Linked DNA regions of Homo sapiens: region 2 is linked to region 1. A link means that fine-mapping ties the variant in region 1 to the expression of a gene that starts in the linked region. Tissue or cell type: tibial nerve. Region 1 holds a variant in brackets; the other region holds the start of a gene. All regions are shown on one strand. Distances are from middle to middle.

Evidence for each region. PIP is the estimated chance that this variant, and not a neighbour inherited with it, causes the effect.
Region 2: it holds the start of CPNE7, and the variant in region 1 is fine-mapped to the expression of CPNE7 in tibial nerve (GTEx, PIP above 0.99).

The regions. Positions count from the first base shown.
Region 1 is chr16:89,623,597-89,628,737 of GRCh38, forward strand. All of the region lies in intron 1 of DPEP1 (dipeptidase 1), which reads left to right. Among named protein-coding and RNA genes, the nearest start is that of DPEP1, 13 kb to the left of the region's middle. RefSeq lists enhancers at 1-768, 4,818-4,987. The variant A/G (reference allele first, on the strand shown) is at 2,294.
Region 2 is chr16:89,573,084-89,578,224 of GRCh38, forward strand. CPNE7 (copine 7) reads left to right here and starts at 2,675. Exons shown (of 15, transcript NM_153636.3): 1 at 2,675-2,988; 2 at 4,456-4,638. The coding sequence starts at 2,815. RefSeq lists silencers at 881-1,138, 1,599-1,828, 2,069-2,138.

The DNA.
Region 1 (5,141 bases):
GCGGGGCGGAAAAGAACACAGCAAACCTTGGAAACCGCCCTCCGGAGACCAGACGCACAACCCCCAAGAAAACACGAAAGAACCGTGCTGGGAGACAAAACAGAGGAAATGGAGTGCACAGGATAAGCAGGAAGAAAGCCAGGACAGGAGGCAGAAAGGAAGCTCAGACAGTGCAACCCCTGCCTGAAACCCTGGCCAGACGGAGCTCAGAAAGGAGGGGAAGAAGAGGGATACGGGCGACTGGAAATTCCCTGGACCGGAGGCAGAGGAAACGCTCCAGGGAGTGAAAAAGCCTCACACTAAAGCACGTGGCTGAGAAGTCGTGGCGCTCCGAGGAAAGAGGCAGCTCCAGGCCTGGAGGGAACAGCGGTTGCCCACACACAGCCGGGCCCATCCACCACACATGCACAGACGGACTGTGGTGCGGTCACCTCCTGAGGGACAAAGGTTTCCCGCCCAAAGTGCACATCCAGAGAAACTACTGATGAGGGCAGAATAAAGACAGACAGGAGGACTGGGGAGTGAATTCCTGCCGACCCGCTGCTAGGGAATGGTTGCAGGGCCAACTCTAATGGAATAGGGTTTAGTCTGCTTTGCATTGCTCCAAAGAAATCCCCGAGGCTGGGTCATCTATAGAGAAAAGGGGTGGGTTTGGCTCATGGTTGTGGAGGCTGAATGGGAAGCGTGGCACCAGCGTCTGCCTTTGGTGAGGACCCCAGGGAACCTCTCATCACGGCAGAAGGGGAGGGAGCAGGTGTCACTGGAAGGATGGCCTGGACCGTAATAGTCCATGTCCTCGGCGTTTGAACAAAGAAGTGGACAAAACGTGCAAAGTAACGAACAAAACACGGAAAGAAAGCAGCGAAAGCAGGGATTTATTAAAGCGAGAAAGGTCGGGAGTGGGGTGAGAGGGGCGCTGTTACATAGTTTTCTGGGGTTTGTTTTTTTTTTGTTTTGAGAGGGAGTCTCACACCGTCGCCCGGGCTGGAGTGCAGTGGCGCCATCTCGGCTCACTGCAACCTCTGCCTCCCAGGTTCAAGCGATTCTCCAGCCTCAGCCTCCGGAGTAGCTGGGATGACAGGCGCCCGCAACCACGCCCGGCTAATTTTTGTGTTTTTAGTTGAGACGGGGTTTTTCTTTGTTGGCCAGGCTGGTCTTGAACTCCCGGCCTCAGGTGATACACCCGCCGCACTCTCCCAAAGTGCTGGGATGACAGGTGTGAGCCACCCCCTCGGCCAGTTTTCTGGGTCTTAAGGGCACCTTTCATGGTTCCTATACCTCTTATCTGGATGAAAGATTTGGTCCGTGGCTAATCAAAGGCTGAGGTAAACTGGTGTCTGCAGATGAAAGGGTGGCCCGCAGCCAGTCCACAGCACTTTCCTTTCCATCTGGGACATGGTGGTGGGGGCTGTACGAGAGCAGCCTTTGATCCTTTGCTACTGGGCGTGGGGCTCTTCCTCAGGGTGTAGTTTTTGGAAGTTGGTGTTAATTGGCCCTGGGTTCCCTGCCCCAGACCTTGAAGTTTTTCCTGGATTCAGCGTGCTTTGGCCTCGGACTCTCTCCCCCTGACCTTGGTGTTTTCTCTTTTAGGAAGTCAGCACAAATTAGCGTCCCATTCCCTGCCCCAGGCCTCGCTGTTTTTCCTTGATTCAGCACGAATTGGCCTAAGTTCCCTGCCCCCAGACCCTATTCTCCTGCTCCCAGGGCATCACGTGCAGAGAGGGAGGCAGAGAGTGAGGGGGGAGGTACCAGGCTCGTTTTAACCGTCAGTTCTCTTCCCAACGAACTCATTACCTCCAGAACTGCACCAAGCCATTGATGAGGGGCCCGTCCCCATGACACAAAACCTCCCAACTGGGATCCAGTTTCCACGTGAGATCTGGACAAACATTCAAACTCTATCAGGACTATAAACCAAACAAAGGTGGAAGACCTTCAGTGCAGGCATTAAGTGAGCACTGACATTCCAGGCTGGGAGTAGCAGGTTGGACGAGGGGAGGCTCTGGGGGCAGGGAGGGAGGTTGCAGAGTCCAGAGCTTGGAAGATGGAAGATAAGGGCACCCAGTGTAGGGCAGGAGAAGAAAGGCAACTGGAAACTCTGGGACAAACTATAAAACCCCACGGAAAAGACAGGTGTAAGGTGACTACCTTGATCCGAGGGTGATCTGAGTGGCTGGTACCTTTGTGCTCACAGCAGGACTGTCGTAAAGTAGGTACATCCATGACTTCTACTTGACAGACGAAGAGACTGAGGCCGAGAAATTGAACCAGCTCACCCACGCTGCCCTTGAAC[A/G]GTGGTCGTGAGAGGGGAACCCACAGCCTACCAGGACACGGGGCCCTGCCCAACCCCCAGGACGCCCTCGTGTTGAATTAAGTCCGTGGCTTTGAGCCTCAGAAACGGTGCAAAATGCAGTCCACGCGTGGCTTTCGGCCCCGGTCTGGTGCTCGGAAGACATGTGCCTCCCTCTACCTGCCCCCCGTCCTCCCGCCACTGTGAGGCCCTGAGAGGCCCTGAGATTCTTGCGATGTGTGAATAAGGGTGCCGCATTTTCATGTTGCACTGGGCACTGAATGGTGGAGCTGAGTGATGCGGTTTGGTTCTGTGTCCCCACCCAAATCTCATCTCAGATTATAATCCCCACCTGTCAAGGGAGAGACCCGCTGGAGGTGAGTGCATCGTGGGGCCATTCACCCCATGTTCTCGTGGTAGCGAGAAAGTTCTCACAAGATCTGTTTGTTGTTGTTTTTGTTGGTGGTGGTGGTTTTTAAGACGGAGTTTCACTCTTGTTGCCCAAGCTGGCTGGAGTGCAGTGGCACAATCTTGGCTCCCCGCAACCTCCACCTCCCGGGTTCAAGCAATTCTCCTGCCTCAGCCTCCCGAGTAGCTGGGATTACAGGTATGAGCCACCGCGCCTGGCTAATTTTGTATTATTAGTAGAGATGGGGTTTCTCCATGTTGGTCAGGCTGGTCTCGAACTCCGGACCTCAGGTGATCCACCCGCCTCGGCCTCCCAAAGTGCTTGGATCACGCGGTGGCGTGCGCCACCGCACCCAGCCTAAGATCTGGTTTTTAAAAGTGTTTGGCAGTCCCCCCCTCAAACTCTCTCCCCCGCTGCCATTTAAGACATGCCTTGCCTCCCTTTGCCTTCGGCCATGATTGTAATTTTCCTGAGGCCTCCCCAGCCATGTGGAACTGTGAGTCAATGAAGGCTTTTTTCCTTTAAAAATTACCCAGTCTTGGCCAGGCGCGGTGGCTCATGCCTGTAATCCCAACAGCTTGGGAGGCCGAGGCGGGTGGATCACTTGGGGTCAGGAGTTTGAGACCACCCTGGCCAACATGGTGAAACTGTCTGTAGTAAAAATAAAAAATTAGTCAGACGTGGGGCCAGGTATGGTGGCTCACACCTGTAATCCCAACACTTTGGGAGGCCGAGGCGGGCGGATCACGAGGTCAGGAGATCGAGACCATCCTGGCTAAAACGGTGAAAACTTGTCTCTACTAAAAAAAAAGAAAAAAAAGAAAAAAATTAGCCGGGCGTGGTGGCGGGCGCCTGTAGTCCCAGCTTCTCTGGAGACTGAGGCAGGAGAATGGCATGAACCCGGGAGGCAGAGCTTGCAGTGAGCTGAGGTTGCGCCACTGCACTCCAGCCTGGGCAATAGAGTGAGACTCCGTCTCAAAAAAAAAAAAAAAAAGTCAGATGTGGGATCAGGCATGGTGGCTCACACCTGTAATCCCAGCACTGTGGGAGGCCGAGGAGGGCACATTATTTTAGGTCAGGAGTTCAAGACCAGCCTGACCAACATGATGAAACCCTGTCTCTACTAAAAATACAAAAAAAATTAGCTGGGTGTGGTGTGCGCCTGTAATCCCAGCTACTCCGGAGGCCGAGGCATGAGAATCAGTTGAGGCAGAGGTTGCCGTGAGCCGAGATTGTGCCACCGCACTCCAGCCTGGGTGACCTACTGAGACTCTGTCTCAGAGAGAGAGAGAGGAAGGAGGGGAGGGGAGAAGAGGGAAAGGAAGGGCAGGGGAACCCAGTCTTGGATATTTCTTCTTTTTTTTTTTTTTTTTTTTTTTTTTTGAAACGGAGTCTTGCTCTGCCACCCAGGCTGGAGTACAGTGTTGCAATCTCGGCTCACTGCAACCTCCGCCTCCCTGGTTCAAGTGATTCTCCTCCAAAAGCCTCCAAGTAGCTGGGATTACGGGCAAGGGCCACCATGCCCAGTAAATTTTTGTATTTTTAGTAGAGAAGGGGTTTCACCATGTTGGTCAGGCTGGTCTCAAACTCCTAACCTCGTGATCCTCCTGCCTTGGCCTCCCAAAGGGTATTTTTGTTTGTTTTTGAGACGGAGTCTCGCTCTTTCGCCCAGGCGGGAGTGCAGTGGTGCAATCTCGGCTCACTGCAAGCTCTGCCTCCCGGGTTCATGCCATTCTCCTGCCTCAGCCTCCCAAGTAGCTGGGACTCCAGGCACCCGCCACCATGCCCGGCTAATTTTTTTTATTTTTGGTAGAGACGGGGTTTCACCATGTTAGCCAGGATGGTCTCGATCTCCTGACCTGGTGATCCACCCGCCTCGGCCTCCCACAGTGCTGGGATTACAGGCGTGAGCCACCACACCCGGCCACAAAAGGTATTTCTTTCTTTCTTTCTTTTCTTTCTTTTTTTTTTTTTTTTGTGAGATAGAGATTTACTCTTGTCGCCCAGGCTGGAGTGCAATGGCGCGATCACAGCTCATGGCATCCTCCACCTCCCGGATTCAAGCGATTCTCCTGCCTCAGCCTCCCGAGTAGCTGGGATTACAGGCATGCACCACCATGCCTGGCTAATTTTTGTATTTTTAGTAGAGACGGGGTTTCACCATGTTGCCCAGGCTGATCTCGAACTCCTGACCTCAGGTGATCCGCCCGCCTCAGCCTCCCACAGTGCTGGGATTACAGGTGTGAGCCACCTTGCCCAGCCCCCAAAGGGTATTTCTTTATAGCAGTGTGAAAATGGACAAATACAGTGGCCTCAAGTTCTCTCCTTAGTGGCACCTGAGGGAGTGTGGTGCTCTTGGAAATGCTCTCCTGTCACTCAGTTTCTGCCTCTGAAGCGACAAGCAGAACATGGATGTTCTCAGAGTCCAGGGCTGTGTAGATA
Region 2 (5,141 bases), 51 kb before region 1:
GTCCAGGGTGGATGAGGTCATGGGCAGCACAGCCCTGGACAGTGGAACTGATGTTGTGGACGTGTGGGCCGGGAGCCCAGGGAGGGATGTTGGGTGGCGGTTCAGACTGGGCTGGGCTTTGCAGGGTAGGTAGGGGTCGGGTGGTGGGAGAGGCTGAGGCAGAGGCACTTGGGCCTGAAAAGTATCTGAGTCCTGGATGCCAGGAAGCCACACAGGGCACTTGGGCACAGATATGTCATTGCTGCTCCTAAAATTGATCATGTGTAAGCCTCTGGATAGCCGTGGGGGTCGGCACTAATCAGAGGGTCTCATAGGTAACCCAGTGATGAGGGGATCCAGGCTAACCATTGAATGCAATATTGTCAATAAGAAAGAAAAAAGCAGGTTACAGAACAGAAACCATCTGCACCAACACCTATGGTGCTCCAACCGTGCCAGGCAGGGTCCCGGGCCTGGGCCGCGTGATGAGCCTGGCGTGGGGTCCCGGGCCTGGCCCGCGTGATGAGCCTGGCGTGCAGATACTGAAGAGTCCTCTCAAGTGTGGGAAGGGCTCTGAGAGTTAGGCACCTTTTTTTTTTTTTTGACAATTAAAAGAAATTTGCACATAAAAAAAAAAACCTGGAGGGTTAGATGTGGGGAGGTGATGGGCTGCTTTGGGGTCTGGAAATTTGTTTTTACTCCCTATCTGCATTGTCTAATATTTCAACAAGGAACACGGTTATTATTCCTGCGTGTATGTGTGTGGATCTCATTTCCTGTGTCTGGCCCTGCAGGGAAAGCTGGGAGGGGGAGCCTTGGAAAGATGGCTCCACATGGCCTGCGGGGTCCTTCCATTGTACCTGGGCCTACTGCGGGCTGATCCCTGAGCAGGGGCAGGCAGCGTCCAGACACCAGTGCCACAGGGGAATCGGCTTTTCCTTCTGTGGTTTCTCTCCATTAGAGCAGGCTGCAGTCAGGGCTGTCAGTCAGGAGACAGCAAGCCGGCCGAGGGCTGTGGCTGGAGATCCCAAATCGCCCTGGGCTTCAGAGACTCAAATTCCCAAACTCTGTGATCTTTCTTGGCTCCCTGCGTCCTTTGCTTGGAAGCCATCTGTTATTTTGCCAGGGTGCCGCTATGTGACAGCCAAGGGCTGAACTGGGGTGTTCCAGGTTTAAGCCGGGTACCCCTCAGACAGCCTGGTGGACCTCAGGCCTCACGCCACACTGCAGACGAGCAAACCTCAGGGCGGTGGTGAGGAGCTTTCGGGTGAGGTCAAGGCAGGAAGCGGAGCTTGGTCTGGGGAAAACTGTCCCAGGGCTGCTGGAACCGAGCGGGAGGCACGGCCTGCAGGAGCTGCCTGGGCGCCCGCACCCTTTGCCTGAATTTCGCATCCTTTTCCCATGGAAGTGGTTGGGGACCGAGGATGTGGCCTCCCGGCAGCCTGGAAGGCTGGGCTGAGGAGGACACAGGGCCGGGAAGGCCCAGACTGGTCCCTAGAGAGCGGGACTGGCCTCTGCCCACTGCGGGCTTCAGGGAGGAGGCGCAGAGGCCGGGGAGACAGCAGATGGGGCCCTGCAGGCCTCGCTGCGCCCTGACCTGTTCCTCGCCTCTTTAGCCAACCTCCCGGGAAGGCAGGAGCCGGTCTCCATGGCCTCTCCCGGCCCTGCCAGCCCCGTGGGGCCTCCCCGCCCTGCAGCCGCGCCCGGCGCCATCCCGCCGTCCGACCGCGAGGGGACGCCGCTGGCCGCGTTCCTCCTCCCAGGCCGAGGCTGCCTGTGCTGCCTCCCGCCGGCGGGGCCCTGAGCCTCCTCGCCCTGTCGGCGGCGGTCCCCTCTGACCGCAGGGTCTTCTTCTAGAGTCCTGATCGCCGAGGCTGAGCGGAGGCGCCCGGTCTTCCCGCCTCTTCAGTCTTAATGTCTCCCTCACCCTCGCCCCCCACCCCCGTGGCTTTTGGCGAGGTCCGTGCCCTATTTTTAGGCAGAAATCGGCAAAAAGAGTGGACTGCGAGGTGGTTTCTGTCCCCGCCGACGCCTCCTCTTCCGCTGCTCCCTCCCCCGGGACCGGTGATGGGGAAGGTGGGGGAGTGAGTTCAGGGCGGAGCGGGCCCACCCCCCACGGAACCCAGGCCTGCCCCGCCCCGCCCCGGCCTCGGGGGACTGGTGTGGACCGTGCCCCGCGGACCCCTCGGAATCAGACCGCGATTCAGCCCTCGGCCCCCCGGGACGGTCCTTCCAGCCCCAGACGAGCGCGGCGCCTGCACACAACAGGCGCCCACTAAATGCTTGTTGATGGAGGTGGCGAGTACCCGAAACCAGCGGAGCCTGGAAATGGGATCCTAGAGATCCGGGAAGGGCGCGGGGATCTGGTGCCAAGCTGGGGTCCCCCTTTTGCCTCCCCTAGTGTCTGCCTGGGTCCGAACCCGGGCTCAGGCCCCGCGCAGCTCGGAGCCTCCAGCCCGGAGCCGGTCCCTGGGCCGGGGATGCGCACAGCCGGGGAGGGCGCGCCCGACCTGACCCCAAAGCTATCAGTTGGGGGGGGGGTCCCCGGGGAATTAGAAGCTGTCTCCTCCCGGGCATCTCCGAGGGGCACCCCTGCCTCTGCCCCCTGCCCTCATTTCCCGCCGCGCCCCTCCCCGGCCCCGCCCCCCGGCCGCGCCCCACCCCCTGCAGTCCCCGCGCGGCGGCCGCCCGAGCCACGTGCGCCCGCGCCCGGCAGGCGTTCAGGGAAGCGCGGCCACGCCTGGGCCGGCCACCATTTCCCGGGCGCCGCGGCGGCGCCGACTCGCGGGCAGCGGCCCCTCAGTGCGCCCAGCCGGGCCCCCGAACGCCGGGAGCATGAGCGCGGGCTCGGAGCGCGGGGCGGCGGCAACCCCCGGGGGTTTGCCCGCGCCCTGCGCCTCGAAGGTGGAGCTGCGGCTCAGCTGCCGGCACCTGCTGGACCGCGACCCGCTCACCAAGTCCGACCCCAGCGTGGCGTTGCTGCAGCAGGCGCAGGGCCAGTGGGTGCAGGTAGGGCCGGGGCGTGGGAGGCCGAGAGGCCACCGGGCCGGGGCTGGCGCCGAGCTGGGGATGCGGAGACCAGAGCGGGCGCGCTGAGGCCAGTGGGGCGCAAGGCGGGGCCCCCCGGAGCTGGGGCTCAGCTCGGGGTCAGGGTTGGGGGTTACCAGGTCTGGGGGTGGGGTGTCCAGAGCTGTGGGGAGAGGCTGGGCTGGAGGAGGTGGCGGCGAGCGGGGTTCGGAGGAGAGAGGGGGGTGCCCCGCAGTGAGGGGTGCGGCCCAGGGTTCGGGGAGGGGGCCCCGGGCCAGAGTGAAGCGCCCAGGCATGAGGCGCGGGCAGGGGGCTCGACCAAGAGGCGCAAGGAGATTGAGGGGTGAGGGGCGCCGGCCGACGGGGGGCGGGAGGCTGGGCGGGAGCAGGCCGGCGAGGGAGCGCGCGCTGGGGTGCGGACCTCCAGGCGTCCGGGGCTCCCGCTCCAACGTGGGTCTCAAGCGAACCCGCTGTGATCGCGGTTGGGGTCCGAAGGGGCACGGGGCCGGCGCCAGACGGGCGCTTCCTCGGTCACCATCTCGCGTGAAACGCGTGGCTTCACCTCGAAAGGGCGAGAAACGCATGGCGCGAAGCCGCAGCGGGCGGAGGAGCCGGAACTCGAACCCCAGTCCGCGCGGGGCGCCAGCGCTTTTCCCCGGCGCAGGGGTCTCTCCAGGCTCCAGCGCGGGCCCGGGCGGCTGCTCGGGCGGTGGAAGGGACGCGGTCACCCGGTGGCGTCTCCGGTCATCCACCTTGAGGGTGAAGGGCCTGCCCCGCCCTCACCGCCTGTCCCCAGGGTTCCGGCTGCCCCCGGAGGCCCCGTGCCCGCCCCTCACAGCCTGAGCCCACCCTTCACATCCCGAGCCCACCATCCCCACGGAGGCCTCGTGCCCGCACCCTCAGAGCGTGAGCTGTACGGGTGGCCCATGTTTGCCCTTGGTTTGAGGTGCAGGATTTTTCAGGATTCTGAAATGAGTAGCCTACTGGCCCAGCTGGGTCTTGTCCTTACGGGGCAGTTGGACCAGGGAACTGCATGGGATGGGAGAGGCTGGTGAGCCCATGGTACCCCAGCCAGGAGGGAGGGCCCCCCTGTACCCTACGCCCCCTCCCCACTCAGCTGGTGCTGGGGAGCGGCCTGCACTTTAGGGCTGCCCAGCCCAGGGTGTGAATCTGATCTCGCCCCCGACTCAGCGTGTCATTCTCGTCCTCTGTGAGCCTCACTTTCCCCATCTGTGATCTGAGGGTGGAGCAGACAGTGGTGGCCAGGGGTGACCCCCAGGGTGGCCCTCGGGATTGTGGTCCCATGGACAGAGAGCAGGCAGGAGGTCTTCCCAGGGTATGAGTCCTCCTGAGGTACCTGGGCGTGGGTGAGCGGCAGAGGGGAGATGGAGGTCTGGAGCCCGGGGTGGAAGCCTCTGGAGTGGGGTCGGCTCACAGGTGCACTTGCAGGTGGGCAGAACCGAGGTGGTCCGGAGCAGCCTGCATCCCGTGTTCTCCAAGGTCTTCACGGTGGACTACTACTTCGAGGAGGTGCAGAGGCTGCGCTTTGAGGTGTACGACACGCATGGGCCCAGCGGCTTCAGCTGTCAGGAGGACGATTTCCTGGGGGGCATGGAGTGCACCCTGGGGCAGGTGGGTGCCCCGTCCCCTCGGAGGGAGGAGGACGGTTGGCGTGGGGGCCACAGCCGATTCAAGGCTGATGTACCAGCACCGCAGGGACCCTGCTGGGGTGGCCAACCTGGCTCTGCCCCCTCCTCAGCTCCTCCTGAACAGTCATTATTAGATTAAAATATACATGTAATTTTGAACTGGGTAATACATTCGTATGTTTTAAAGCCTGAAGGTATAAAAGGCTGTGGAGCGCCTCCATCCTGCCCCATCCAGCTGCTGCCAGGTCCCTGGACATTGTCCAGAGAGAGATTTTCACAGGAGCAAACCAGCCTATCACTTTTCCTCTTTTTTCTTTTTTTTCTTTTTCTTTTTTTTTTTTTTTGAGATGTAGTCTCGCTCTGTCACCCAGGCTGGAGTGCAGTGGCGTGATCTCGGCTCACTGCAACCTCCACCTCCTGGGTTCAAGCGATTCTCCTGCCTCAGCCTCCTGAGTAGCTGGGATTACAGGCACCCGCCACCACGCC